Linked DNA regions of Homo sapiens. The protein of the gene in region 3 purifies or fractionates together with the protein of the main gene of each other region. This does not show direct contact. Each region holds a gene or a part of one and is shown on either strand. Other genes may lie near its edges. The genes, in order: RUNX2, USP9X, SMAD1 and USP15.

What was found.
Region 1: the proteins of SMAD1 (region 3) and RUNX2 purify together in Homo sapiens (affinity purification with western blotting; 3 studies listed by BioGRID). This does not show direct contact.
Region 2: the proteins of SMAD1 (region 3) and USP9X purify together in Homo sapiens (affinity purification with western blotting; 2 studies listed by BioGRID). This does not show direct contact.
Region 4: the proteins of SMAD1 (region 3) and USP15 purify together in Homo sapiens (affinity purification with western blotting, with the first as the bait; 2 studies listed by BioGRID). This does not show direct contact.

What each region holds. Positions count from the first base shown.
Region 1 is NC_000006.12:45,323,260-45,331,529, reverse strand, and holds the start of RUNX2 (runt-related transcription factor 2), read right to left. Parts: upstream 3,201-8,270; 5' UTR 3,070-3,200; exon of another isoform or gene 3,035-3,069; intron 2,870-3,034; 5' UTR 2,804-2,869; coding exon 2,746-2,803; intron 1-2,745. UniProt on the Homo sapiens protein: Transcription factor involved in osteoblastic differentiation and skeletal morphogenesis. Essential for the maturation of osteoblasts and both intramembranous and endochondral ossification.
Region 2 is NC_000023.11:41,165,183-41,172,722, reverse strand, and holds part of USP9X (ubiquitin carboxyl-terminal hydrolase 9X), read right to left. Parts: intron 6,852-7,540; coding exon 6,509-6,851; intron 5,242-6,508; coding exon 5,146-5,241; intron 4,717-5,145; coding exon 4,505-4,716; intron 2,729-4,504; coding exon 2,488-2,728; intron 2,254-2,487; coding exon 2,104-2,253; intron 886-2,103; coding exon 765-885; intron 1-764.
Region 3 is NC_000004.12:145,540,354-145,547,893, reverse strand, and holds part of SMAD1 (mothers against decapentaplegic homolog 1), read right to left. Parts: intron 5,313-7,540; coding exon 5,196-5,312; intron 1,192-5,195; coding exon 970-1,191; intron 1-969. UniProt on the Homo sapiens protein: Transcriptional modulator that plays a role in various cellular processes, including embryonic development, cell differentiation, and tissue homeostasis.
Region 4 is NC_000012.12:62,382,107-62,389,646, forward strand, and holds part of USP15 (ubiquitin carboxyl-terminal hydrolase 15), read left to right. Parts: intron 1-1,733; coding exon 1,734-1,892; intron 1,893-1,971; coding exon 1,972-2,196; intron 2,197-7,324; coding exon 7,325-7,408; intron 7,409-7,498; coding exon 7,499-7,540. UniProt on the Homo sapiens protein: Hydrolase that removes conjugated ubiquitin from target proteins and regulates various pathways such as the TGF-beta receptor signaling, NF-kappa-B and RNF41/NRDP1-PRKN pathways.

The DNA.
Region 1 (8,270 bases), on a different chromosome or scaffold from region 3:
TGTTTGTTCTTAACTTTGTAATTCTGCTCCCTAGTTTTGGAATTTAGCTCTGTATTTTAAAAAGAAGCTATAAAACTTTGTCACTACTGAATCTTGAAACTATAAATATATTATTGATATGGACCACAATTGCTGTTTTGGAAATCAGTGTTCACACATCATGTTCAAGCAGTTACAAAGATTTTATGTAGATAATCAGTCAGCTGATATATTTTCATGAGTCATTAATTTTAAGATACTCTATGAGTCACATCTGTGATTTTCAGCAAGCTATATTTATGATAAATGATGGACAGATTTTGAGTAGTACAGATTGAAAATTTTTGATTAACTCAAAGTGAAGTATGCTGAGAGATCAAGGACACAGACATACTCTTTCTCTAGCATGTGCGCGCGCGCGCGCACACACACACACACACACACACCACTCATTGTATTTGAGGTGAAGCAGTTGTTAATGTGTGCTTTGTACCTCACCTAGGAAAATCCTAAACTTTCTTTTTAACTATTTTACAAAATTGGGGCACATACTTAAGACATTTCATTAGGTGGTGGTGATAATCATTATATAAAAATCTAAAGCCTGAAGTGAGGTTTTAGGCTTTGCATAGATTATAGAATGGGGAAATGTTTGCAATGTGATAACATATACATGATGTCCACTACTCACCTGTAATTAGTCTGAGGTAGTGGGTTGATGTTAAGTTCTCTATTCAGGCTTCAAGATACTGTTTGGGGGCTGGCGGGGAGGGAAGGTGCAGCCCACTTTTCAAAAGAGGAAGAACTGGTTGTAATGTTGGAAAAAAAAAAGGTTCACTACCATGCCTTGCTTAGAATCCTGTCAAGTTTTGGAAATTTTGAATAGTTATTAAGAATGTTACAGAAGTATAAGATCCCTGTTATGATAGAATAAGAAGCAGTTTAATATATTCTTTGTGAGAATTTTAACATATTCTTCATGATAACTTTACTTCTAATACTGAAGAATTTTTTGAAACTTGTGTTGTTCCTGATCTGGTTTTTAAAATGTGTTTAAAATAAATAGTTAAACAGAGTGATAACGTGAAAGAGTAACTTAACTGCCTCTGTTATCCCTCCCTGATATCTCTGTTATCCCTGTTTCAAGTTATCCCTCTGTGTAACAGTAGTTTTAACTATTCTTTTTCCTTTTATCTCTTGGGTAGTAGTAACAAAACTTTCGATGTATAAGCTGTAATTATGCTATGTGTTGTAATGTAGTCTAGCTGTGTTTATGTCCTGCTTCCTTAATATAGAAGTTTTTAGAGTAATACTTGGTACCCATCATTAAAATTTTAAATTAATCTGTGATTATTATATTGTATATATTATAACTGAGGGGGCCCACTTACAGCTATTGAGGGAGTCACTAAAGCAATTTTACATTTTTTTTTGTAAAATACAAAGTACATTTCCTCACCCTGTAAGAGAAACCATTTTTTCTCCCTTCAGGTTTAATTATTTCTGTTTGACCTAAACTGAGACTGATCCTCTAGTAGTATCCAGTTAAAATGTGTGAAGTAGGAGGAGTAAAGGAAACTCCAGTCATTAGTTGTAAGTTAAAAGCAGAGTTAATATAGATGTACACAGCAAGAAGGTTTATTTTAATGGATATAAGAAAAATTTTTGAAAACTTGCCTTGTAGTTGGAACATGTTGGAGATCATAAAGAGAATCTTGTAAGTGTGTTTAGATATTTTGCTATAATAACACATCAGCTGATGAATGTTAAAGTCATTTACATATCTGTATCAACAGTAACTTGAAATTAAATATTAAGGGACAAGATTATGCCTACTTCTTTTAAAGTCCAGCATGGTTTAATAGTTGTGGCTTTTAAAAATCATACAGGGTATCCTTATGGAGCTTTATTTTTCATGAGACTAAACAGCAGTTATTCATTTTGGTAGGTCCAAGAATGTGATTAAAAGAATCTTAGACGTTTCAGTGTTTCAGTGTGTTTATAACAAGGTCTATGGATAACAGTGTGTAGATGTAAAATTAAAATTACATAGAAAAATGCAGTTGCATGTAAGTTTTAAAATACTTCCATGAACTTTTTAATATCCTGGGCAACTATAAAGATCTTTTAAAAATGGCTGTGATGTGCTTATCATAATTTTATTTCAGCTGAATGTATACTTATATAAAGTTGTTTAGAAACAAACTTATTTAGATAGGATACAGTTTGAATTTATAAGTAGATTTCTTTTAGTTGAGCTGGTTAAAATGTTAACTGTACTACAGGTTTATTTCTGTGTTATACATGGTAGACCATAATGTTGAGATAATTCTGTGGTCTGTTATTTTGTAAAATTGCTTCCTTTTTGAAGTTTGCTCAAATATTGGGAGCTGCCGGAGTCAATAATTTATAATGCTTTGATTAATTTAGGATCTGACTTTTCTTCTGGTGAGGGTTAATGAGAGTATTAAACTGTTTCTTTTACTGTTTTCATATCCTCACCTCTATAACTCTAGAAAACATTTTGATCAATGTGAGATAATTTAATTTTGTATATTTCAAGTCATTACTTTGAAAATTAGATACATTACAGATACCAAATGCAAATATATACAGAAATTTCATTTTTCAATTCTTAATGCAACAAGATAGCATAATTAGGATCTTTAATATGCTATTTGGAAAAGCTAGCAGTTTATCAAAGAATCATACCTTTATGTTTAACAGGTTCATATCTTACAGGATTTTAAAAATGGTAACACTTACCCCAAAAGAAGTTTTGCTGACATGGTGTCACTGTGCTGAAGAGGCTGTTTGATGCCATAGTCCCTCCTTTTTTTTTCAGATAGAACTTGTACCCTCTGTTGTAAATACTGCTTGCAGCCTTAAACTGAAAATACAAACCATACCCAAACCTTGTTTTAGTTTTACAGTATGCCTGGAGTACATAGACTTTATATTTATTTTTTTCTGTCAAGAAATTATGTAGCTGGTAACATGTGAAAAGCAAAGAAACAAAACAAAAAGAGAATGAGCAAATATTTGAAGGACCTACTATTACTGCATAGACTGTGGTTAGAGAGCACTCACTGACTCTGTTGGTCTCGGTGGCTGGTAGTGACCTGCGGAGATTAACCATTTAAAAACCAGAGACTTCTTGCTGTCCTCCTGGAGAAAGTTTGCACCGCACTTGTGGTTCTGTGGTTGTTTGTGAGGCGAATGAAGCATTCACACAATCCAAAAAAGCAAAAGCTTTAAAACTCCTTTTTTTTGCAAGCACTATTACTGGAGAGGCAGAATCATGTGGTTTGTGACCTCACAGTACTCTTAAGTAAAGTGGGACTGCCTACCACTGTGGCTTTTCCCCCTTGCTCTTTCTCTCTCTCTCTTTCTCTCACAAAAGGCTTGTGGTAAGGCCTTTCCTGGCATCCAGAAGGATATAGCTTTTTAATTTTTGTGACTCATGAGGATTTGGATAGAATACAAATGCTGAAGGAGCCCAAACTCCTGTAAGGTTAAGCATTTGTAGAGCAGAGCTCTGCAGTTAAGGGCTTTCCTTTCTACTCCCCGCTCAACCTCTGCCTTTTTGCCTCCTCTTTTTAGTTCATTATTGTGTCTGTGGAAAAATGAACAAAATTGGCTCAAGAGTCTGTGTGAAATTCTGAACAACAGTGATGATATACAATAATTCACATCTTTGGACTGTATCACATTCTGGGGTCTGCTTCATATTTGCTGGGTGGCTGGATTCCTTCTGTTTTCCTTTTTCTTGTCTTCTTAAACTTGTGAATCTGTAACTCATTGTAAAAAAAAAAAAAGTTTACCTTAAGGTCTGGTTGCAAACTGCTTGCTAGGCTTGACTATAATTGGCTGTCATGAAAGTGTTAGTCTGGGCATTCTTTTACAAATTTTAAATCACGTCTGTCTAGTTTATTATCAATCTATTAGATGGCGGCCTTTACAATAAAGATTAAATGTAATGTTTCATGTATACCATTATCTCATGCCTAGTTTGAAGATCTTAAAAAAATGAATGACAGGGATTGTAATATAGTTTATTGGATGAATCTTAGTTTTCTTTATGATTGTAATATTTTTTGTCTTTCATTGAAGTGTATTCAGTTTATATAGTTCTTTAAGTAGTTTAGACATTAATAGAGTTTCTGATAGCAGATCTTCTATAAAGTAAAATGCTTATGTTATAATGTAGATTGTTCAGTATTTGATTCTATGAGCTTAGAATAGAGTGGGTTAACAGAAGCTATGTATTTTTTTGTTTCTAATGGAAGCTTTGAAATAAATTACAAAATGCTGTGTGTAGTAAGGAATAATGCCCACAGACAGAGTATGTTAGTCGTCTCGATTTGCTAATTCTGATTCAGAAGAAAATTGGAAACATCTTTGGGAAACTATCTCCTTTTTTGCCCCTTTGGACAAGTATGTATAGAACTCATTTTCTTATTAGGATGATTATATATCATAGGCAGTGAATTTTATATTTATGAATAGAGCTTCCTGTTTTCATCAGTTGGGAGCGATGGAGTATTTTTCAACCAAAATTATAAAGGCGAACAGACCAATTTTCTAGGCATTTTTTTGCCATTTATCCATGCCACTCTAAATCTGCATGTTAGACTTCTTCCTAGTGTGACAGTAACTAGGAGTGGCATAAAGTAAATGGGGTGGGCGGAGACAGTGAATTACAAAAGATTATTTGGAATGTGCAGGGAGGTAAGGGCTAGGGAGACAGGAGGGTGTTAGAACTAAAATATCCCTGTGTTCTTCCTAGTGCTATTCATTATCTGCTTTTGGTTCATATTAGATCACAATAACTGTACAAATATGTTCATAAGTTTCTTTACAGAAAATTTGATTTTCCCAAAATACACTGGTAGGGTATGGGAATGATTCTAGTCCTTTATTTTTCAAATGTCCAGAACCTTTTCAGAATAAACTTTTAGTGATAAAAAACCAGAAATACATTTTGGTGTTTTATTTTAACTATGGATTTATCATGCCTTATTGTATGTGTAAACAGATTTTACATTGAAAGGTAAAAGCGTTCATTTAACATGCAGTTATTCATGTGAAGGAGAGAAAAATTATTTTTTCTCTTTTATAAATAAGTCGTATCCATATTATCTGTATCTCTAATTAGTATCCAAAGTAAACAAAAGGAGGGTTTTGTCCTTATAGCTTGTGGGATTTCCAAACATGGTTTCATGTGTACCTATAATAGCAGAATCACTTAATTGAAAATATGTAGGTAGCTGCTGTAGTATGATCAGCAAATGGTTTTCTTCTTTTCAAATAAGCTTATAGTTTCTACATTAGCATTCACTGAAACATCTTACAAACCCAACATTTTGCTATTTTCTTCCTTAAAATCTTCTTTATGTAAACTTTGGCTCTTCAAATTGACCTGATAAGAATTTAAGTAATTTTTAACATCTATTTGTCATTTAATTACCTGTTCACTTTTTGCAGGTAATCCTCCTGCATGTAATTTTTGGACCAGGATTTGAGAGTTTAGTAGATATTGTTATATATGCACTTTTTGTCCTCTGTGAGGCCTATCAAATTCTAGCAGGAGAAAGATAGTGAAATCATGTGCTTTAAGTTAGTATATTCATTATCCACATGAATTTTTTTCCTAAAACGAAAATATATCCTCTTTGGAGCAAATATTACTTTGTTGTAAAAATTTAAAAAACAATGACAACTGGGGCACATTTGATAATTGGTACACATTTGATAACAGTGTGTTTCATTAGAAATAGCTTACTACACGTGGTGAAGAGATACTGATTTAGAAAAGTCAATGCAAATAAAGCTCTTGATTATAGATTTATACCATGGTTATAATCAGAAATTGAAAACCACAGATTTATTTTTATTTTTATTTTTGCTTTTTAAAGACCCATAAAATTTTATCCTCTCTGGGGACATGTTAGTATTTGCTGTTTTGAAGTAAGCAACAAGTTTAGGTATACTGTATAAATCACATACTTTAATGCCATGGAAATGAAATACAGTTTTGATCTTGAAATCAATTTCAAAGAAAAAAAGTTGTTGGTATCTTGCTTCTCCATTGCTTTGTAGTGAATAAAATGTGTTAGAATTGGTTGAACTTTTGAAAATACCAAGGTATTTGTGTTTAAATGCTATGTGTGTCTTCATTGTAACCATTTGAGTAATTTTTTATTTTCTTAACTAATGATCATATTTTAATACATTAGTTTTACTTTATCAATATTGTGCTCATTTCTATGCATTTTTTTAAGGATTATTTTAGACTTATTTGCTGCTAACTCTATTCTTTTATTTGCTGCTCATTCTTTGAAAAACAAAGGAGAAAATGGTTTGATGCAGGAATTTTTAAACTTTAGAAGTCCTAATTTGGCTTAAAATGTTCTGATTATGAGGTTTTACGAAGGAAGTTTTTAACTTATTGTTTCATCTTGGTATGTGACTGTTTCTTATTTTACTTTTTTTTGACAATTTTTCTTTTTTTTGGATTTGATGTATAGCTGTTTAAGCTTACACGGGATCTATTTGGCCTTATATTGACTACTTCTGTTAGTAAAATATGTATAGTTTCATCTGTTAAATTATGGTGACTGTGCAGTATTCCATTTCCTTGTTTAATGGGGTATATGTTTATGTACACAACTGCATGCACATTTGTCTTATTGCGTATGTATACAAGGCATTGTTTTGTAGTACTTTTTGTAATAAGAGCATTTTTCTCAGTTTATTTTAATTAGATCAGGTAAAAACCCAAACTAGCACCATTTCCCTGATTGTTTGAACAACTTCATTTGATTAGTTTTAGCAGCTGTCTAAATGTGAGATTATGTGGAATGCCAGAAGAGAAAATGCTAAGTCAATCTCTCCTGCCTTCCCTCCCTCCCTCTCCCTATCTCTCTCTCTCTACCAATCTCTCTCCCTCTACCTGTCTCCCCCATTCCTCCTCTTTCCCTTTCTTTCTCCTTCAGGCTTTTTTGGGTTCTCTTCCTTTTTTCCCTCATTTCTATACAGCCTCAAAGTAGATTCTTAAGTTCTAGTAGGGGATATTGACATTAATCCTCACTAATGAATACTCGGTAGATTTGGAGCTCTTAACATTCATTAGAAATTGTTATATTCTAATATGTAATGCCTCAGTTGTTAGATAGTATTGGCATCTGATTATAGAGACTTAATTTCTTTCAGCTGTTTTTAATTGTTTCTTGAATCCTTTTATGCTAATTTACTTTAATACATTGTTCACATAGTATTAACACTTTAATTATGAGGATTACTTTTTTTTCTTTGATTATTCTTTGAAGTGCAGAGTGATCCATACTTGTTTAATGTAGCTGTATAAGTAATTCATGTTTCTTGTAATTATTAGAACAATTCATCTTTGAATGCTGTCATTTTTGTAATAATAAAAAAAGGCGAGAACTTGCAGAAAATATGGGAAACATGCTCATATGACAGCTGAGGATGTGGCTAGACTAAAGCAGGAAACTACTACCCACAATGCAATGTTACATACACTACCACTTAATATAATTTATATCAAACATGCTACTGACAAAACCAAAGAAAAATAATATCCCAGCTATGCTATTTAACGTATCTAGGGAGAAGTGAAAGTAATCTTTTTAGAACCTTTGTACTTAGAGAATATAGTAAATGAAACTGTAGGACATTATAGTATACGTTGGAACACTGCTGTAACTTTGTGCTATGGAACATGGCTGTAGGTAAAACTGTCCTATAATGAGAATCTTTTGTATATTAGCTTTCTTGGAAAAGGTACAAAAGGAAAATCTCCTCTCTTTCAATTGAACTCTTTTAGTATTAAATAGGATTAGAGGATATTATCACTTGGAAAAATAAGTTAAATTTTGAGATACTCATTGTCATTATCTAAACTTTTAGTATAGTCATGTATATTTCGTTACAATTTGTTTTAAGATGTCTTTTATTGCCAAGTTGGGGGTGGGACTTGAATTGTCCACTGAGGCATATTTCTTTTTCAAGTAATTGTTTTTCTTGCTCTTTATTCATGTTAATGGCTTGCTCTATCAGTCTATGTGCTTTACTGTAGGGAGGTTATTCTAAAGCAAAAATGTGAACTGCTTTTATAATGTGGTTGAAAAACATGTTAAGGCATCATCTAAAAAAATCGGGTTTTAATATATTTAAGGTTTCCGTTTATAAATCTTAATCCACTGTGCTCTTAGCTGTCAGACTTCAGCAATTTTGATGAAGTTAGTAACTTAATAATTTAGATGAAT
Region 2 (7,540 bases), on a different chromosome or scaffold from region 3:
AAGTGATAGGTGTACAATCAGGAAAATAAAAGGGAAATTATTAAATCCAGGATAAAAGTTGTCAGTGATCTAGAGAACTATATTTCAAACAATCTTGGAAACGTAGATGTTGAATCTGGATTTAAGCAAATACTGGGAGGATGTGGGGGTATGTAACAGTTAAGTTTTCATCTACACAGCAGAAAATCAGTATATATCTGTAAGTAACAAAGAAATAGCTGTATGAGGACACTCCAGACATAATGGTACATATATATACTAAAGTAAAAGCGAGAAGTTGGAAGTGGTTGTTTCTAAGGATAAAAAAGGAACAATACCGCAGATGACACATGACCCATATTATAGTCCAGGTATAGGCAAACATTTTCTGTAAAGGGCCAGGAAAGTTAAGCAGTTTAGGCTTGTGAACCATATGGCCTCTGCCACAACTCCTGGGCGGTGCTATTTTAAGACAAAAGCAGTCATGTAGACTGAATGTAAACAAATGAGCCTGGTTTTGATCATGGACACTAAAATTTAAACTTCATATAATTTTCATGTATCACAAAATATTATTCTTCTAGATTTTTTTTTTGTAGCCACTTAAAAATATAGCTCTTGGGATGCACAAAAACAAGCAGGGGGCTTGATGTGGCTTGTGGGCTGTCATCTGTCAACTCTTGTTATAGTCTATACCAAAAAGCACGGTCCATTTAGAAACAGAATTTGCTAATATACTCCTTTATTGTCCAGCAAGTACTTGATCATCATTTAAAAATTCTTACCTGGCGGCATAAGTTTCATAAGTACTCTTGCTCCATCTCTAAGGGGTGGCATATTTAGGCTGCTACCTAAGTCTGCAACTTGCCAAAGAAAAGAGATGTATCTGGGATGCAGTGACATTATCTAGAATATAAAATACACAAAATAATTACCTCTAAATTATTTACTCCCGTTTTATAAAAGCCCAAGTAAGTTTCTCTGTGTTAATCCCTATACTTTTACTTATGAAATTTCTACTCTTTGAAATAGTCTGACTTTCCCATCTTTTAATCCCTACAAATCCTTAATAGTGCAGATCAAATACATCATCAAGTCACTTCCAGTCATTTTTTTGTGATAGCTCCTCTCCTGTTCTATTAAACCATTTCTCTCATATATACAATTTAGACTCTGGACATAACAAAAGGCTGCCATGCCCACTACCAAATTCTTAATCCAGTTGTTATAGAGAGCCAAATCCTCCTGACACTGGAGTGGCTGCTACTATTGTAACCATTAAAATTTCTGTCGGGAGGGGCGAAAGGAGAGCTTAAAAATATTTCTTTGGCTATATGTTACTGACAATCTGATAAAGATTACAGGTATTTTCCTACATAGTTCTTGTTTTCATTTATTTATATTTTTAGAGATGGGGTCTCACTCTGTTGACCAGGCTAGAGCATAATGGCACAATCGCAGCTCACTGCAGCCTAGAACTCCTGGGCTCAAGCAATCCTCCTGCCTCACAGCCTCCCCAGTAGCTGGAATTACAGGTGTGAGCCACCATGCCCAGCTCATATATAGTTCTAAAAGAACTATCCGTTTTGTGGTATAAATTTTAGAAAGTGATACAGCTGACTCTTGAACAACACAAGTTTGAACTGCACAGGTCCATTTACATGCAGACTTTTTTCCCAATCAAATGTGGACAGAAAATTCAGTATTTCCAGCAAGCAAAACCCAAGTATATGGAAGGCTAACTTTTTGTATATCTGGTTGCACAGGGTCATCTGCAGCATTTTGGGTATATGCAGAGGTCCTGGAACCAATTCTCCACGTATACGAGGGATGACTGTTTTCCTCTAAATTTATACATCCAATAGTGTTATAATTAAGCTCTAATTGGTTAATTTTATGTAAAAGTAACAATACTATACCTATGGGGAAATTATGTTTTAAATTCCAACTGTGTTACAATTACCTTTTAGAGGGATCCATTCTGAAGTTGGTGGTTAACTGTATTTTTTTGTCTCATTAAACTGTAAGCTCCTCAAGAAAAGAAAGAACCACTCTATATACTTTATTCTCAAAAACCCTAGCATGATGCCTTACATACAGTAGTTCAAAACTGTATCTACTCACCACTCCAGGCAAACAGCTTTCCACTTCTGGATTGGGACCATCACTGTAATGATTACCATGGTTTCCAGGAGATCCAGTGGAGGAATCAGAAGAGCTATCAGGGCTTGAAGGCATATTGGAACTTATCTGTGTAAGTTTGGCTGTAATAAGCTGAAAATTATATACTATGTTAATATCAAAAACAAGGAAAAATACTTACACAAAACACAAAACTTAGTGATATACCAACCAAAAAATCCGAAAGACTACATGCTATACTTTAATGCTATAACTCTAACACCTAACACAGTCCCAAACATAACAAATGCTCAATTAGTATTTACTGATTAAACGATAGTCTCTGGTTTGATTTTATTGAAAAATCTGTTAACTATACATACATACCGATTTATCTTTTAAGTTTAATTGTCCAATCAACTTTCTATCATCTGCAGGATCTATCAGCTCACCGCCCACAAAGAGCTCAATTTTTGTATGGGCTACGTTGGCTTTAATACGATTGAGAATACATCGTCGTACTGAACCAATTGTATCATTTGTATGAGACCATACCTCCAAGTCATCAACCTGTCTGCCCTGGTTTGGAAATCGAACTACAAAAGAGAGGTGTTTACCGCGGAATGCTCTGGGGGGAAAAAGAAAGACAGACATCATCATATTCAGCAGACTCTGAAATTTTGTTGCCAAGAAAATAATGCTGGGGATTTAACACTAAGTATTTTCTTATTAAACAAGAGGATGTGAATTAAAGATACTTAATACAGCTTGAGAATCCCTTATATGAAATGTCTGGGACCAGACAAATTTTGGATTTCTTGGATTAGGGATACTCAACCTGTATTACTTTCAGTATCTTGAAAATAAGGCCAGGCATGGTGCCTCATGCCTATAATCCCAGCACTTTGGGAGGCCGAGGCGGGTGGATCACTTGAGGTCAGTAGTTCGAGATCAGCCTGGCCAACATGGTAAAACTCCATCTCTACTAAAAATACAGAAAATAAGCCAGGCTTGGTGGTGGGCGCCTGTAATCCCAGCTACTTGGGAGGCTGAGGCTGGAGAATCGCTTGAACCTGGGAGGCAAAGGTTGCAGTGATCCGAGACTGCACCACTGCACTCCAGCCTGGGCAACAAGAGTGAAATGCAAAAGAAAAAAAAATATTGCTCCTTTTAACTAAAAATATAAATAATATTTAAAAACATAATCATATTCTATTGTTGTTAGTCTTGTATCTATGGTTGCAGAAAATGAGGTGTCTACTAAAATGAAATTAAATCCAAGATATAACGCTTATTTTTATGCTGTAAAAGCCCAACTCACTAAGACTATTTTTAAATGTAAAAGGTTGGCTGGACGCAGTGGCTCATGCCTGTAATCCTACCACTTTGGGAGGCCAAGCAAAGAAGATCCCTTGAGCCCAGGAGTTCAAGACCAGCCTCGACAACATAGGTAGACCTTGTATTAATAAAAAAAAAAATTCAAAAAAAGAAGGTAGAGTTTACCTTTTACATTTAAAAGGTCGTTTTACATTTTGTTAAAAGCATCAACAAAAATGCCACAATGCACTTTATTTTTTTTCTGGAAAAAAGCCTTCATATCAAAATTCACTCCAAAATGCTATTTATATTGGTATAGTACCTTTTTTAAAGTAAAATACAAAATAAAAATCATATTCAAGAAGCAACTGTATATAATTTCATGATTAATAAACAAAACTCTTTAAAAAAAATGATGGCATTGACTACACAAAACATCCCAAAACTATAAACACCATTTGAAAATATTTGTTATATGCCATGCAAGGCAGCTTTTAAGAGCTCTTTACAGGCCAGGCACTGTAGCTCACGCCTATAATCCCAGCACTTTGGGAGGCCAAAGCAGGAGGATTTGCTTGAGCGTAGGAGTTTGAAACCAGCCTGGGCAATGTAGTGAAACCCCACCTCCACAAAAAGTCAAAAAAAATTAGCCAGGTGTGGTAGCCTGTGCCTGTAGCCCCAGCTACCTGGGAGGCTGAGGTGGAAAGGTCGCTTGAGCCCGCAGTGAGCCATGATTACACCTCGGCATTCCAGCCTGGGTGACAGAATAAGACCTTTTCTCAAAATAAACAAATAAACAAAAACACTTCAACTGCAAAATGCCACTGCAACACTTAATGAGTAATAATGTCAAAGACAAAAAGAAAACTAGAAAACAACTTAAGAATGCCTCACCCAAAAAACCAAAACAAAACCAGATGGGAGAGTGGGGGAGGTTATTAAAAAAAATTAGATGAAATGAAAATGTTTTTAATGGGCAAAGACAACAATTTTCAAACGAGAAAAATTTCTGCTCTCCTTTTACCAAATGGCTAGGAAAATATCAAATAATTAAGAATTAGCACCAATAGATTAGTTATTCACAAACCTCGACATAGGGAGAATTGTTCTTTCCTCATGATAATCACTGTCACATTCATTTATATATTCCCTTAAAACAGTTAATACTCGAACCATTCGAACAGCTTCCTGTCTTGCACAATTAACACTGTCTTTGTCACCATCCAAAACACACAATGTGTCATAGGAAGCCTTCAGACGATCAAAACAAGACTGAATGAAGTCTTCATGGATCACCACCTACAAATATCAGGCCAAATAAACACAGTTAAAATTGCTTTAAAATGTAAAAACCAAATATTAATCCAATTAAAGATGGCAATGGCTGATTTAATTGTAGCACTCAATTAACAACAGTCATATTTAAGTAGAGAATCCATACAATAATAAAATGTATGTTTATTAAAAGGAAGCTAGCATTACATAAGTTAACAAACATAAATTAGTCAAAAGTGAACTTCAGGATTAGGTGTTAGCATCAAAATGAATTCACATAGACTTTCTTTGCCATTTCAACATCTAATAAATAGTTATATTAAAAATAACCCAATCACTTCAAGACAACTAACAAGGCAAGATTCATTTAGATAATATTTTTTCTCTTTTGTATAAGAGAAATGGGGGCCGAAAGAATTATATATGGAAGTTTTAATGCACATCAATCCTCACCTGATTGACTTGTAGTCTTGGACCAAGGTTCGTGTATATCTCTTTGAGGAGATCTATAGCTCTGCTGGCAATATCATCATTACTCTGAATCACGACCTGGTTTCAAAATGATAAAAGTATTCATCCCTTTCAACATATATTTTTGTTGGGCATTTAAATTCAAACCATATCCTCAGTTATCTTAAACACACTATTCAATGATTTAATGGTAAGTTGACTTTGATAATCAAGTAAAATTAAGTGAGAAGCACAGACCAAAAGAAAGGGTAATAAATGCAAAATGAAAGTCTCTGAATAATTTAAGAATGAAAGGTACATTTTTGTAAAAATAAAATACGCTTTGACCACTATTATTTAACCCTATAATTTAATATCTTGATAACCAAGTGAGACACTCAAGAAGAAATTCAAATTAGTTGACAGGAAATAAGAGATTACATGAAACACAGTTTAGCATAAAGGACTACTCTACCCCCAGTTTCTATAAATCTTTATCACTCATCTAATTACATTAGTGGTTTCCAAACTATGTTCAGAACCCTAGGGGACTTTGAGGAAGTGTTTCAGTGTTGGCCCCTATAAAAGGGTTGGGGAGGGGAAAGGGGATAAGCATGGGGAGACCAAGTAAGAAAACATATTTTCCTTGTTCAATTCAGTTTACTTTTGTAGTGTGGTGCAAATTTTGAGTTTTAAGATGTGTTTCTGCTGTTAAAACAATGTTGAAAACCACATACTTAATTAAAAGCTTTTAAATACTCAAATGCCACAATAAACATCTTTATCTATGGTTTGCAGGAAAATATGTGAGACATCCAAACAATATAAACTGCTGTATAACAGGTCAGATTAAAGATAGGCATAATAGAGTAGTACTATAAAAATAGATTAGCCTTAAAAAGATAGTATTTTATTCCCCCAGGTATTTAAAAATATCACAAGGTAAACAGTGCCAATAAAGCATATACTCATAATCTATACTAAACACAAGTCCTCTCTTCTGTCCTCTATTTTAGTGTTAAACATTGAAGAGGAGGAAACAGATCGACACTGAATGAAAACTCGGGAAGGAACATTAATATCCACGGGGGAGGAATGAAAGATTTGTATGTTTAGTGCACATCTATGGAATACACAGATACTAAGCTAAGACAAAAGGAACATCAGTGGCAGGAGGAGGGAGAGGAAGAGAGAAGAAAAAGCCCACTGACAGGTGACATAATAAAAATGAACAATTCCTAACTACACCAAATTCCTGAGACAAACATCAGAGTAAAATACACAATTTATATGCAAAATTACAATTCCTTACGTACATGAAAAAGTACATCAGACACCATTTACAGAGTTCCTACTTTTGACTTACCCTCCAAAGGTAATCTAATCCTATTAACTCCAAGTCATCCATCATATAGGCTCTCCTTTTTGCTACTAGTTTTCCTTCTCGACAATTCACAGCTTTGAAGAATCGCTCAAAACACTTCATTCCATTTTCAGTTAACAGAGAAGGATCAAGCTGAAGCACATTACTTTCAAAGAAGTCCTTATTAATATCAGGATCTAAGTCTGGTTCATCCCCCATCAACTTGGAATACCACTTAAAACAGGCTTCACGATCACAAAGGTAAACTGCATTCTCAGCTAAGCATTTCCATATTTGTTTTGCCTGAGGAGCACATAGCCACAGCTGACCATCCTTCAATAAAAATCTTGAAAAAACATTGAAAATTGGCAATTAGATTTATGTAATTTTTATCCGGAAAGGCAATCTGTATTACCTATAAAATACATTTATCACCATTATATTTTAACTATAGATAAAAAGATATTCATTCTTTCAAAATAACCTATTTCTCTACTTTTATCTGGTACTAAAAAAAAATCCCCACTAGATATTAATTAATTCAACAAGCACACACTGAACACCCACTTTGTGCCTGAAATGCAGCTAGCTGAATTAGGAATAAAAGATTCATTCCATGAACCTTTAGTTTTTGAAACCAGACTTTTGGAAAGAAGCATGTTTAGTAGCTTGAGTTAAAAATAAAAGACTTAGGCTGGGCACAGTAACTCACGCCTGTAATGCCAGCACTTTGGGAGGCTGAGGTGGGCGGATCACCTGAGGTCAGGAGTTTGTGACCAGCCTGGCCAACATGGCAAAACCCCATCTTGACTAAAAATATAAAAATTAGCCGGGTGTGGTGGCTCATGTCTGTAGTCCCAGCTACTGGGGAAACTGAGGCATGAGAATCAATTGAACCCGGGAGGCGGAGGTTGCAGTGAGCCAAGACTGTGCCGCTGCACTCCAATTAAAGATGGCAATGGCTAATTTAATTGTAGCACTCAATTAACAACAGTCATATTTAAGTAGAGAATCCTGGGTGAGACCCTGTCTCCA
Region 3 (7,540 bases):
AGAAACTATACGCAAGTAAAAACGCATATACATACCCATGCATACACACATACGTAATACATGAGAACATAAACATGCATACATACATACACATATGTATTACTAAAATCAGAATTTTGCACTGATACTTCTATTCTCCTTCACAGGGTTTACTTTTTGCTCCCCTCCGCATTTATATGTCTGTTTTCCACAGTGGAAACCCAAGCTCCCAACAATATCCACACATTTAGTCATTTGCTTCATCTTTACATATGAAAGTTTCAGAATGGTTTCACTCATACTGCTATGAAATAATCAAGTTTACTAAAAAGAGTTCGGGATTTATTTGAAATCCTACCCCTACTCTATCTACTCCACTCAGCCTAGGCTGAGGATATATAGTCACTTACTATATTCATAACTTACTAGGCTTGTTTTTTGGTCTTTATTTTTTCTTATTATAAATATATCCATGCCTGATTTTTTGTTCTTTTGAAGGTGCTGTCTTATATGGACAGTTGTTCAATTTGGTGTCCCTGTGGGGGTACAATCACTGCAGGGTTCTATCGTGCCACCTTGCACGATGTTTGTGCTAAAATCTAGTTCTTTCTTTTCTATTTACTGAGTTATGGTATTCATTTGAAATACAATTAAGCAATTAACTGTAATTTGCTTTTAATTTTAGGTTGTGATTCATTTTATAACAGCCAATTTATTCTGCAGCAAAATATCATACAGAATAGTGTCTTAAAATGGCAAATCATAATTTCAACTAATTAATTTCAATATTATGAGTTGATCGACCACAAAAATCACTGACTGCAAGAGCTTCCAGATAGCAGAAACTGGAAAAATATTTACAAACTGCAGCAAGTGAACATTACCTGGTCTTTGCTACAACAGTTTGTTACAGGAATGATTTTAAGTCAGCTCTGGAGGAACAGGGACACAACAGATAAACATCTGAAAGAGGTTAAAGCAAAAACTCACCTTTTCCAATATGCCGCCTGGTGTTTTCAATAGTGGAATTCCGGTTAACATTGGAGAGCAGCCCAAGGCAGAAACGGTTCTTATTGTTGGAAGGATCAGTGAAACCATCCACCAACACACTTGTGGAGGAGGCATGGAACGCTTCACCCACACGATTGTTGAGCTCATAGTAGACAATAGAGCACCAGTGTTTTGGTTCCTCATAAGCAACCGCCTGAACATCTAGAGGAAAGAAAATGTTATATCAACCAAGGTTAGTGCCTCAGGCTCTCAAAAACTGAAACCGTGTTGTTGAATTGGCTCAGGATCATGGAATGAAGACACTGGAAAAGCAATTGCTATTATAATGTATACAGTTTTTCTATGATGTTTAAAGCAGGTACTTCTTAATATGACACTCTCCTTATTCTCCTAATTGGAGAAAATTGGAGAACAATTTTCTCCAATTACTATCAGATAACCAAAACACCAGCTAAGGAAGCACAGCAAAAACTTTTGCTGAATATTAACAATATGCTAATTGCTCTGTAATATGCAGAAATGGAAATCACCCCTACCACAGACTTTGGCTCACCATCTAAAGAAACACAAGTGACAAGTGAAAAAATAAGTGGGAAGAGAACAATAGAAGACTGAAAATATGCCAAAGGTACTGGCATAAAAATGAATTACTTTTGGCAAAGACTAAGTATGCCTATGCTTATTCAAAGCCATGAAAATCAGTTTCTAATTATTGATAAGAAGTTACTTTACCTCATATTAAGTTGCCAATAACTATCACAGCTACAGTGTTGCTCCAGTTCTCAAACTCAGGAAGAAATCTTGCCAGCTGGCCATTCTTACAGAATGAATCATATCTTTCTCATCCAGATTTCATGCTAACTTCCTTATATTTGCTTTAAGTCATGCAGAGCAGGTGTGTTTTGTCTCTCCATTCCCAGAATGGGCCAACAATGGAAATTACCCAACTTTACTGACAGGATGCAGCTTGTTAAGTCAAATCTCTTAAGACTAACAAATCTCCAAACAGAACATGGTTCTAAACATTTGCAACTAAAAGGTTTTAAAGATGAATTCCTTCTGTAGTAAAACCTCTTGTACCACTCCTTTAGAGATTCCAGGAATACAAACCATATATTTCCAGCATACCAATATATAATGATCTGAGGTTTATGAAGTCTTGGGTGTACAATAATAAAAGGAGGAAAAGAAAGAAAGTCCACATCAGAAGCCCAGACTACAACTGCTAAGGGAGAAGCACCTCTGTGTTCTTAACATCAAATTCCACAAATACTAAAATGCACTTTACTTTAGAATTTGGTAAAAAACAAAACAACAATAACAAACACACACACACACACACACAAAAAAAAAACAAGGAAAATACTCATGAAAAAACCCACACATAAGTTAGTCGCTTTACATATGTAAGTAGTTAGCTAAAAACATACACTATCTTCCCTGCTTGCTAAGCAACTCTACCACATCAATTTGCTATAATTCAAAGAGCAAAACTTTAGTGATTTACAAGTGCCAAATCTTAAAGCAGACTGCAACATTATTAGCAGAAGGCTTTTATCAGCTATCAGGATACTTCAAAATACTATTCATCTAGGTCAGAGGTTGATGAATTTTTTCTGTGAAAGGCCAGCAAGATTTTATGGGCTGTATAATCTTTATCACAACTATCCAATTCTGCCCTTGTAACACAGAAGCAGTCATAGACAATATGTAATGAATGAATACAGCTGTGGTCCAATAATGCTTTATTTACAAAAACAGATAGCAGGCTGAATTGGCCTGTGGGCTGTAGTTTGTTCACCCCTGCTCTAGGAAAATCACCAAAGGTTAAAAACAAGTTAAAAAAAAAGCGGGGGGAAGAAAAAAAATGGCCAACATTCCTTCCTCGTGAAAATATTAACTGACTATAAACTATAAAGGAAAAAAAAATTAAAGCTATTTAAATGAAAAAAATCTTAAAGCAATTTAAAGATCTGTTTCCTGAAATCAGACATTTTGGGTTTAGTAATAATAGTTACTGGGTCCACATGCTCCTAATAGTGTGGTACTGTGCCTATTCTCTCCTGGTATCCTGGTCCCCAAATATAAATTCCACAGATGTGTGAGATAGGGGTTATTTCCCCCAACCAGAGTGTTCATTGACTCAGAATTATGTTTGATAAGATGTTCAAGAGATAATCAGGAACCATAAAATACAGAGGCAATAAAAAAGATTTAAAAAATCATAATGATTAAAGTGGTGTACATTCCAATTTATGACACTGCACATCCAAGAAAGGTCCTTTGAGTTTATCACCAATTTTTTTTTTCTTTTTTTTTTTTGAGACTGAGTTTTGCTCTTGTTGCCCAGGCTGGAGTGCAATGGTGTGATCTCAGTTCACTGCAACCTCTGCCTCCTGGGTTCAAGTGATTCTCCTGCCTCAGCCTCCCAAGTAGCTCGGACAACAGGGGCCCGCCACCACACCCAGCTAATTTTTGCATCTGCAGTAGAGACAGGGTTTCACCATGTTAGGCAGGCTGGTCTTGAACTCCTGACCTCAGGTGATCCACCTGCCTCGGCCTCCCAAAGTGCTAGGGATTACAGGCGTGAGCCACCGCGCCCAGCCTTCATCACCAGTTTTTAAATCGATGTTTAAAGCAGTTTTAGGTTCACAGCAAAACTGAGTATAAGACAGAGTGATTTTCCATATGCCCCCCACCCCCACACCTTCCTAGCCTCCCTCATTATTAATATCCCCCACCAGAGTGGCACATTTGTTTTAACTGATGAACCGACATTCATCCTACAGACCTACAACCAAAGTCTACGGTTTGCGTCAGGGTTCACTTATGGTGTACATCCTATGGGTTTGGATAAATGTATAATGACATGCAGTTACCACTGTATAATGTGTCATAGAGACAAAATCAATTTTAAGTACTTAAAAATATAAGCAACTCCTATTTTAATAAGTATCTCCTATTTTAATAAAAAAGCACTAAAATGAAACAAGACATACCTAGTAACCAAACTGTACTTTAACTTCAATTTGCATAAACATTATATAAATTGCATGACCCATGCCATGTGTTGAGTGCAGCAGCAAAGCACTTTCTTTCATGAGAGGTTATTTAGGAGCAGTTTTATTTGCCAGGGTGGCTGTGGATTCTAACAGATTTCTCAGAGAGTCTACCGAACTTATTTACCTGAGTTCTCTGCTCACTTAAGTCTATCCTACTTGCCTATGTAGAGCTGGAAGAATGATGGCATCCTCCACTCGGTCACTGCTAAGGATATATACAGCGCTGGAATCAAAGACCCACCCTTTACTAAAGGGGGAAAGAAATTTTTCATTTCTGCTTGCAAGTTCTTCAGGCTGAGAAGGGGAAAAACTTGTGCCTCAATTCCTTTTAGTAACAAAGTTAGAAACAAATAGCAAGAAATTCTATTAGTTTGTTCCAGTTGTAGTTGCACATACATAAGAGCTGAAAAACAGACGGGGTTTATGTGTATCTATCCTAATTACAGAAGAAAGCCTTTGGACAGCCCAGTTATACCAACTTCCAACTTTGGAAATCACCAGTGAAAACTCTACTTCAGTACTGTTATACTTATTGTTTCTAAATACCATTTTGTTCATTTAAAAATACTCTTTTTGGCTGGGTACAGTGGCTCACGCCTGTAATCCCAGCACTTTGGGAGGCCAAGGTGGGCGGATCACCTGAGGTCAGGAATTCGTGACCAGCCTGGCCAACATGGTGAAACCCTGTCTCTACTAAAAATACAAAAATTAGTCGGGCGTGATGGTGTGCACCTGTAATCCCAGCTACTCAGGAGGCTGAGGCAGGAGAATCACTTGAACCTGGGAGGTGGAGGTTGCAGTGAACCAAGATCGTGCTCCAGCCTGGGTGACCAGAGCAAAACTCCGTCTCAAAAAAAAACAAAAAAAAAATTTTCATCATCAGTTAAAAATTATTAAGTATTAAAGATCTAAACAGATAACTGCAAAATTATTCTCAGATCTTCATTAGTTAAGTCAGTGTATTTGTTCTTTAAATTAAAGACTTACTTGTTATCCAGCAATTGTAGTGAGCTTCTCTTAACATTGGACTCTATTTTTCTCAAGTAGCTCTCTTTTTAAAGACTAATAAAAATTTGTGAGAGAAAGTAACATCTGGACAAACTTTAGACTCTAAAAAAGGGAACAGGCAGCAATTAGTTTTACCTCCTCTGTTGATTTCTGAGGGCAGGGGAGGCGCCATCATGTTTGTGTCCATCGGCTGAGAGCCATCCTGGGTCATGGGGTCTTCAGGAGGCAGGTAAGCAGGTGGGGGCGTATCAGCTACAAAGTTTTTAAAGAAGTTATTTCTTAACCCTTAGTAAACATACATGCTCAAAACACGTATCCTCTTCTGTACTGAAATTCTCAAGAGATCAAGTTGTCATTTCAATCTCCCCATTAAAAGACTAAAGGCTACAGGCACTGCCTTGATGTACAATTTCTGAAAAGTATTAACCATGCCACAATCATATACATTTTTGTGAAAATTCAGTGGGAGGAAAAGAATTATACTATATGCCAGTTCCAGAAGCTGTTTGCCTATGCAGGATCATGCTGTTTAAAAGCAATCAGAAGAGTATTTTAAGCACACTTTAATATAATCTGCTTTGAGAGGACCTCTGCATTTCAGTTTCACTGATAGATGGAAAACCTCTGAAAGCTTCACTGGACTTCTTAAGAAAAGGAGCTTCAGGGTCTTTTGCATTAAATCTATGGGCTTTTAGAAAATTCACCAAGTTTCATTATAGCCTACTGATTTGAACTGTTAATTTTCCATGACTTTAGGGAATCTGTTAGGACCACACTCTCCCTACTCATTTAAATAATCACTAGCTTTAAAATCTCTAGTAACAGAATAACAGAAAATGAATCAGTTTATCACAGCTATCTCCTATTTCAGAATTTACATATATGTTTCTTCTGGCAAATAAGAGGCAAACATGATTTTTTAAACAAAGAACACTAACACAAGTCTTGCATTTTCTTAATATAAAACAAAGGGTATAGGTTTCTCACAAATAATCCTTTTCCATCCAAAAGCAAGCTCCTCACTAGCTATCATGAGCCCATCTAGCATATGTGTCAGAGCCTTGGAGACAAAATTTTACCTGAGGGAATCGTGAATGTTTGGATAAGTAATCGAGACCACTCAGAGCAACTGTCAAATACAAACAACTCATGTTGTTCCTTCAGAGAGCCCCAGTGATTTCCAAGACTCACTCTCCAGCTGAATCACAACCTGGTAACTTCACATCCAGCTGCTAACAAGCAACAACTCATAGTACTGAGATGGGACTACTGGGACCTTCTCTGGATGCCTCTTTTGCCCCTTTTCAGCTTCTTTTAATTCAGCCTCTTCTCTGCAGCTGTAAGGCTGACTCGGCTTTATCTCAAGCCAGGAACAAAGACAAAGAGCCTCCTCTGAGCCCAAGTCAATGAATTTCTGCCAAGAAGCTGGTGAAAATTTCATTGGCAACCTATGGCATCAGCACAACCAAGAGGAACCCGATAATTCTTGATACTATTCTACTATTCCTACAGGCACCTCCTCCCATCCCTTGCAACTGTTTTCCATATTTCCATTACTTGGCCTTTGCCTTAATCCCTGACATTTAGGGACAAAGTGTAAATTCAAGCAATAACCTTTAATTCAATCTTGGGGCCACTCTGGGCTGCCACTGCTCAAAAGTCTTCTGAAATGTATCTCCTCACCACTAACCTGCCCATCATACAGGTTAGTGGTGAGGAGGAAGGGAGAGAGGTAGACAGGAAGTCACCAGTTACTTTGATTTTTAAACTAGTCTGTCTCCCAACCCTCATCCCAAACAGCTTTGGACTGAAAACCGGACAAAACAATGTGAAATAAACAAGATTTAAATAAAAGAAGGTAATAAATACATAAATAAAAGAAAGCAATATAAATGTGGACCACTTTTCAATTTTTGAAGGCCTAGCACTGATGTTGAATTCAAATTTACTTAAAAACATTTCAAGCAGCCCAATAAACACACTTGCCCAGTCATTTTCCCTTCCGAAAACATTAATAGATGTTAAGTATATTTTTGTTTAGGGTATCTTTCTTAAAGTCTACTGGCAAGAAATTTGGCACTCTTTTTTTTTTTTTTTTTGGAGATGCTTGCTCATTAACCTGTAACTTAAAAATATATAATGTCCTTATTAATCATTTATTTTGATAACCATTACACCAACAGTTATGTCTAGAAAAAGAGGATAATTGTTTTTTGTCTTTGCTAAGTTGAACAAGCAGATGGTTTCCAGTACTTCTGTTGTAATTCCTTTGTTGTTAAAGTATACGTTTCTTGGGATTACATCATCATTTGAATGAATTTAATTAAGTAGGGGGTGGGATCCCTCAGGAAATATTTTTTCTGAGGTTGCACTTGCAACAGGAGTTTTTTCCATGTATGAAAACGATGCTGATTGAGGTTGTGTTCTCATAAGAGCAAATGTGTGTAACACGGTATTTTTCTTTTTATCAAGAGTAAAGA
Region 4 (7,540 bases), on a different chromosome or scaffold from region 3:
TGAAAAATTATCAAAATGAAAATAGTCTGCAAACCAAGCATTAAAAATTAAATGTACTTTCAATATAGTTCTTAAACTTTTAAGGTTATTCACATGTGTGAATTGTTACTTATCAAATAATTTATTGTTCAAATAAGAATTGAGCTGAAATTTAGCTTTATGGCTGAAATTTAGCTTTATATTGTTAAAAAAATGCCTACTTAATTATATAGGTGAAACTTTGAGAAGTTTTAAACTTGTAGAGAGAATAAGCAGTTTTAAGTCGTTATTTATACAAGTAATTTAAATGGCATTGATAGAGGACATCTACTGGACAACATTTTTTATTAGCTATATACTAGTTCTTAGAAAATAAAAAACCAGCAAATCAAAATGCCTCTGTATTGTCTTCCTTAACATTCTAAACTTTGGACAAACTAGTCCAGACAAACCATCTCTCAGCTCTTACTAGCATTCTAATTGGTTTTATTTTGGTAGATTTTCTCTCTTAAAATTATGTGTAAATAGGTTCTTTATGTGTGACTTTTTTTCTGTCAGATGATGATTCATACTATTACATTTATTTTCAGTCTCATCCAAAAACAAAAATACTTAGTGATGAAAGATTAGGAAAATTGAATATGAACATTAATGTTTCTGTTATCTCTGTGATACTCATCCTCCTTTTGCGCATAGAAACTAAGTGAGAGCCTAGAGTAGTTATCTTAAAAATGCTTTCAGATACGTAATTATCTTTATGTGGTAATATAGCAAGGATGAGAACCTGCCTCTTCCTGTCTACCTACCAGACATTTATAGGAGGAGGCAATAGGAATACCTAAAGCTAAGAATTAAGGACATCTGGAAAATCCTTTGACAAATAGTGAAACAACAATTAATGACAATGAAATCTATGACCAAACAAAGATCAATACATTTTTATATATTAAAGATTACATGTGTTGATCTATTTTGTCCCAGATAAGCTTTGTTGAGTGCTTACTAGGAATGCAAAACAAAATATAATTCATATATATTCCTGTTGTTCGTGTATACAATTTTTATTATTCACAGGAGTTATGTTCAATGAAGCTGCCACAAACACTGAAATAACAACTACTGAACCATTACTCCTAGGGAAACTATAGGGTTTGATTCCTCCAAGCCTTTGTTCACAACATTTTCGTCAACCAGACAATGTATAACTTTGTTTTGCATGTGTTTCTGTTTAAAAACAACTTGTTTAATATATATTGTTGAGTCCTTAACATTGAACTCACAGCAAACAGTGCTATAACTCATGTCTTAATGAAGCATATCTAACACATACTTTTTCTCCATAAAGCACATCACAGCTTTCTTGCATTTAGGAACACTAGCTGGCATGTTTGTACTTCATTTAGTGACCATTTTAAACACTGAAATTAACAACAAAACAAACAAAAATGTGAAAAAACATAACACTAAATAAACTACAAAGGACACTTGTTTATAGATTCAGAGCTGAAACAACAAGCCAAAGCATCACCTTGTTCAACCCCAGCTGGTAACATGCATATCAGGTGACTCAAATTTTTTGCCACTCTGAAAATATCTACAAATGACCATGAATTGATTTTGGGGTTACAAATACATTTTAGAAAGCAGGCAAATTCACAAATGTGGAATCCATGAATAATGAGAATCTATTGTACATATGTTTAAAAATCAACCCTGTTCCTAGAACTGATTTGATGGTTTTGCATTTCTTACAGACACAGGTAGGACGTTTTGCACCTCAGTTCTCTGGATATCAGCAGCAAGACTGTCAAGAACTGTTAGCTTTCCTATTAGATGGATTACATGAGGATTTGAATAGAATTAGGAAAAAACCATATATACAATTAAAAGATGCAGATGGAAGGCCAGATAAGGTAAATTTCATGATCCTATTGTCACCATTGTTATAATTTTGTGATACCTCTTTCTAATTTGTGTCTATTATCCTTGTAGGTGGTTGCCGAAGAAGCCTGGGAAAACCATTTAAAACGAAATGATTCTATCATAGTAGATATATTTCATGGCCTTTTCAAATCAACTTTAGTTTGTCCTGAGTGTGCTAAGATTTCAGTAACATTTGATCCTTTTTGTTACTTGACACTTCCATTGCCCATGAAAAAAGAACGCACCTTGGAAGTTTACTTAGTTAGAATGGATCCACTTACCAAACCTATGCAGGTAAATCATGGGTTGGTTTGTTTTGTTTTTTTTTTTTTTTTTTTGCATTTGTTATTTTTATTAAAAAATTAGTGTTGAGTCCTTATTATAAAAATTAAGTATTGAATTATCAAGCCCAATCAATAATGTTTATTTGTATAAGAGATTTTATAAGCTGAATACTTTGGAAATCAGTGTAACTTTTTACAGTCTTGAAAGAGCAACGTGTGTCTTATAAAAAATTCTCAAAAGGCTTTTTATAGAGGTTTATTTTTATAATATTGGGGTGAATATTAGCTTATGAAGATCAACATAATATTTTTAATTTTTTTAAACTTCAACTTTCTTTAGTGTTAATTGTAATTTTTTTTTACTAGTGGCTATTGGAAGTAAAGCTAATACTTTTAATTCATAGTGTGATAGTAGTGTATTTAAATACCTGTAATTTTTAGGCATTTTAGGAACTTAAAAGAAAGTAGAAATTCAGTTAGACTAAAAATATTTTGTTCAGTGATGTTCTCTAATTTCTAATACTTTGAAGTATCACATATTGTTTATTCTGTGCAAAAGTCCTGTGGTAAGTCTTACTGTCAAATTGTCTGCCTGATTCCGTTACCTAGTGTTATAATTGGATTATTTATATTTTGTGGGTAAAGCACTATCTTTTCTCCCTTATTTATTAATCAGTTAATCCTCTTCTGACACTTGACCCATCCCAGTGAAAGTAACTTCTTCTTTTTCTACCTCTCTTTCCCTAAATTCTAACACTTAACTAATTTTGTTATAACTTTTGGCTTACTTTTATCTTTTATCCCTAGACTACAAGTCTTTGAAGACAGAGACCTTGTAAACCTTTGTATTTCCAGCTTTTGTGGCTGGTAAATATTAATGCACAAGAAGTATTCAAAAATTTTATTCATCAAGATACTTAACTATGCACCTACTAAGTATAAAGCTCTTTGGCTAAACAAAAAAGATATGATTCCTGCTTTAGAAGATTGTTTTCTGTAAATTTTTAGCCAAATAGCTCAGTTTGTTAGTGCATAATAGTCACGATGTCTATATGAAAGCTATATTTGAACAAAATTATGATCTTACCATTCAGGGATGTATTTGGGTTTATTGTCAACAAAGACAGGGTATATGTAGTGTTCATAAACACACAGTCCTTTTATTCAAAGTAATTAAAGTCTAGTAGATACTAGGTATGTACTCAGTTATGCAAATTTAAGCAATTTGTTTTTCTGCTGCTTTATGTTTTCTTTATGAACTCATTGAACACAATGCCCTCATATCAGTATTTCACTGGAGAGTGCTAAGTACTATCCCTTATCTGTGAGCAGAGCCAATAAAGACCTGCTTTTACTTTTGGCCTGGGGAATATGTGTTCACATTTTTAAAGTTATATCCTTTAGATATTCACTTATTCACTCGTTTATAAGTACAAGATTGTCAACATTCTTTTCAATGGTGAGAAACTATAACAGTGCCAAACCACATCCTTACCTCTCTAGTTTATAACTTTGCAGATATACACCAATGAGTGTAATGGAGCAAGAGAGCGTAGAATAATAAGTATAAATTTACTGCAACAAAAAATAAATGTAGATGTTTTATTTCTCTACAGCACATTTGTTAGAGATAATATTCTCCCATGCCAATAATATAAGGTAATCTATATCAATAGTGGCAAATTGCATTAATTTACACATTAGTCCATAAGGTATATGATAAGTGCTCTTCCATAAATTGGGCTCTAAATTATTTTTCCAGCAATGTGAATTTCATTGACTTATCACTTTTCTCATTTGGTGACCAATAATATAAATTTGCGGAGGTTAGAGCCATGGTTAGCACAGAGAAATTCGTTTGTTTTTGTGTTTTGTGTTTTTTTTTTTTCCTTTTTTCCATTTAGAGGCAGTAACAACTCAAATACAAAATGATCACCTCATTTCATTAACACTATGCTTTGACCAGCTTGTAAGAAAAGTGAAATTAGCTGAGTTTCCCTATTTGTTGAGTTTTCCCGTCATTGAAGTTGATTTAGGTCATGGAAGCTTATTAGGAAAAATATTGAATATATATTATATCTTAGGCTCTTATGCTGTGCAAGGTGCTAGAAATATAATGGTGTTTCTAGTCCTTGTTCTTCAAGAAGCTTGTCATACAGTGTGAAAATTGCTCTGACAGGGTGCTGCAAGAGAACACAGAGTAACCTACCCAAACTGGTTATGAGGCCTGTGATAAATTCTGAAGGACAATTAGGTTATAAGCAGGTGAAAACTAGAAATAAAAGCATTATAGGCCAAGATAATGGCATGTACAAAGAACTTATGGGAGAAGAGGACATGGCCCACTTCTGTAATCTACAGTAGTTAATATGGCAAGCAGGAGCTAGATCACGAAGAACTTTGATGCCAGTATAGGAAGTTTGAACTTCATCCTAAAAACTAGGGAAGCCATTAAAGACTATTAAGTATAGATATTATATGGCCACAATTATGTTTCAGAAAGATGATTCTGGGTAGCACAGAGATCAGTTAGAAAAGGCTTAGTACTAAGACCAGGTAAGAAGCTTTTAATGATCAGACGACAGACAAATGACAAACACTTCAACTCTGTCAGGATGGCAGTTTGAAGAACCAGTTGAATGTAGGAAGTGAAAATGTGTAAGTATATTCAAAGATGATGCCAAGTTTACTTGACAGGAAAAGAGGAGACAGCAGTGCTGTTTTAGTGGAATATATAGGAAGAACAAGTTGAAGAAGGAATCCATTTTAGTATTGAACGTGGTGGCCTAACATGACCCAAACCTGTGTTTAGTATTGGATATGCTGACTTACAGATGCATGAGGAACACTTAGGTAGAGATATCCAGTAGGCATTGAATTTGTGTATCTAGACCAAAGGAGAGAGACTGCTTTAGCTATAAATTGGACAATCAGCTCTATGAAAATGATAGTGTTTTAGAAGGATGAGATTACTTAAGGCTAAGGTGACCCCGTGATTTATCATCTAAACAAGAACTCTTGAAAATAGAAGGGACTGTCATTAATAATTATACTAGGATAGCAGGCTAATCCAGGACTGGCCAAAGCAAATCAGGAGACACTGTTGCCTCTTCCAAGGAGAGCATATAAAATTGAGAAGAAGGCTAAAGACAACACTCTAAAGAACAATGTAGGAGAACTTCAAAAGAGGAATATGATCACAGCAATAGAAAAGAATTAAAAGTAGTCGTGTTATAAGGAAAGGGAATTTTTTAAGGAGAAAGTGGTCAGCAGTCATATTACAAAGAGGTCAATAAAATAAAGACTGATAAGTTGTACAACATTATTGGCAACCTTGGAAACAAGTTAAATAAAGAGGCGAAGACAAGCCAGCAAGAGGGTTGAGAAGTAAATGGGAGATAAGGAAGTTATGATAATATAGATATCATTAATAAAGTTATTTATAAAATAGAGGAGAAGGGGAGATAATTAGAGGGAAAGCAATGAGGTACCCTTGTTTTTTGAGAGACTTTATATTCCAATGCTTATGCAAGAGTTGAGATAAAATGGAAGAAAGAATAATTGCTTGGTTTAGGTCCCAGAGAAAGCAGAAGAGCATGGGATTTAGAACATAGACGCTAAGGTTAGCTTTGAATAAGAAGAGAGACATCTTTCTTTCCATGTGTTGCAAGAGACAGAAAAGTACCTATGTGGATTCAAAGAAGTTAGTAGAACAGGAAGTTGGAGATTTTCCCACCCAGTAGTTTCTGTTTTTGAGATGAAATAGGTATTCTGCTGATATTAAGGGAGCAGTAGTGAAATAGGAAGCCTAAAGAATGGTGAAGATTTTTTTTTTTTTTTTTTTTTTTTTGTTAATGAGACAGGGTCTTGCTCTGTCACCCAAGTTGGAGTACATTAGGGTGTGATCTCAGCTCACTGCAACCTCCGCCTCCTGGGCTCAAGGGATTCTCCCGCCTCAGACTCCCAAGTAGCTGGGACTACAGGTGTGCGCCTCCGAGCCCAGCTAATTTTTTGTATTTTTGTAGCAACAGGGTTTTGCCATGTTATCCAGGCTGGTCTCGAACTTTCGGGCTTAAGCGATTCACCTGCCTTGGCCTCCCAAAGTGTTGGGATTACAGGCGTGAGCCACTGGGCCCAGCCCAATGAAGATTTTAAATAGTTATTGAGATAAATGAGAGAATAACCACATGTGTGATATGCAGAATTATTTCTGAGTACTGTCAAAGGATCAATTGATATTGGGCACTGTGGATTTGTAGCACACCAGCCTCTAAAATTGGGAAATTCTCTTCAGCACATGTGAACAGCTCTGAGAAAGTTTAGCAAGAGTGGAATGAATAGAATTGAGTAACAAAGACATTAAAGGTTCGTGATAAAGCATGTAGGGCCTGGATGGAAGGGCTAGAAGACAGTAGGGAGCTGGTAAACTGGGAGAAAACAAGAGTTAAAAGGAATAGAAATCTCTGTGCAAGACAAGAAGAGATAAGAATGAATTTCCAGGAGAAGCAAGAAGTAGTGGTTAGACAGTAACCCGAGTTTAAGATACTAAAAGTGGGGCCGGGTGCAGTGGCTCAGTCCTGTAATCCCAGCATTTTGGGAGACTGAGGCAGAAGGTCACTTGAATCCAGGATTTTGAGACCATTCTGGGCAACATAATGAGACCTTGTCTCTAAAAAATAAAAATTAGCCAGTCATGGTGTCACACGCATGTAGTCCTAGCTACGCAAGAGGCTGAATTCGGAAGATGGCTTGAGCCCGGGAGGTTGAGGCTGCGGTGAGCCAAGATCATGCCACTGCACTCCAGCCTGGGCAACAGAGTGAGTGAGAGCCTGTCTCTAAACAACAAACAAAAAAAGATAGCAAAAGTGGGAGCAGTTTCAAGTAATGACAGGATCTAATAAGTTGACTGAGGTTGAATTAATGCAAGTGTCTTTGAATTGAGGAGCCAAGGAATGATAAAACTAGGACAAATTATCCATGTGGGCATTGTCACACAGGACCCAGGATAGTGGCAAGATTGGAGACAAACACTAATCCAAATGCCAAATGAATGTGAGATAGCAACCATGAGGTCACTCTCATTTACTGAATTTTTTTTCCAAAATAATAAATTCATTACAATTTTTTTTGTTTTTTAGTACAAAGTGGTTGTCCCCAAAATTGGAAACATATTAGATCTTTGTACAGCATTGTCTGCTTTGTCAGGAATACCTGCAGATAAGGTAAGATGTTTCTGGGGTTGAAGTATATAAGTTGGTATTTAGTTTCTCAGTGCTGTAAAACCAGCTTAATAGAAATTCGTTTCCTTTTAGATGATAGTTACTGATATATACAATCATAGATTTCACAGAATA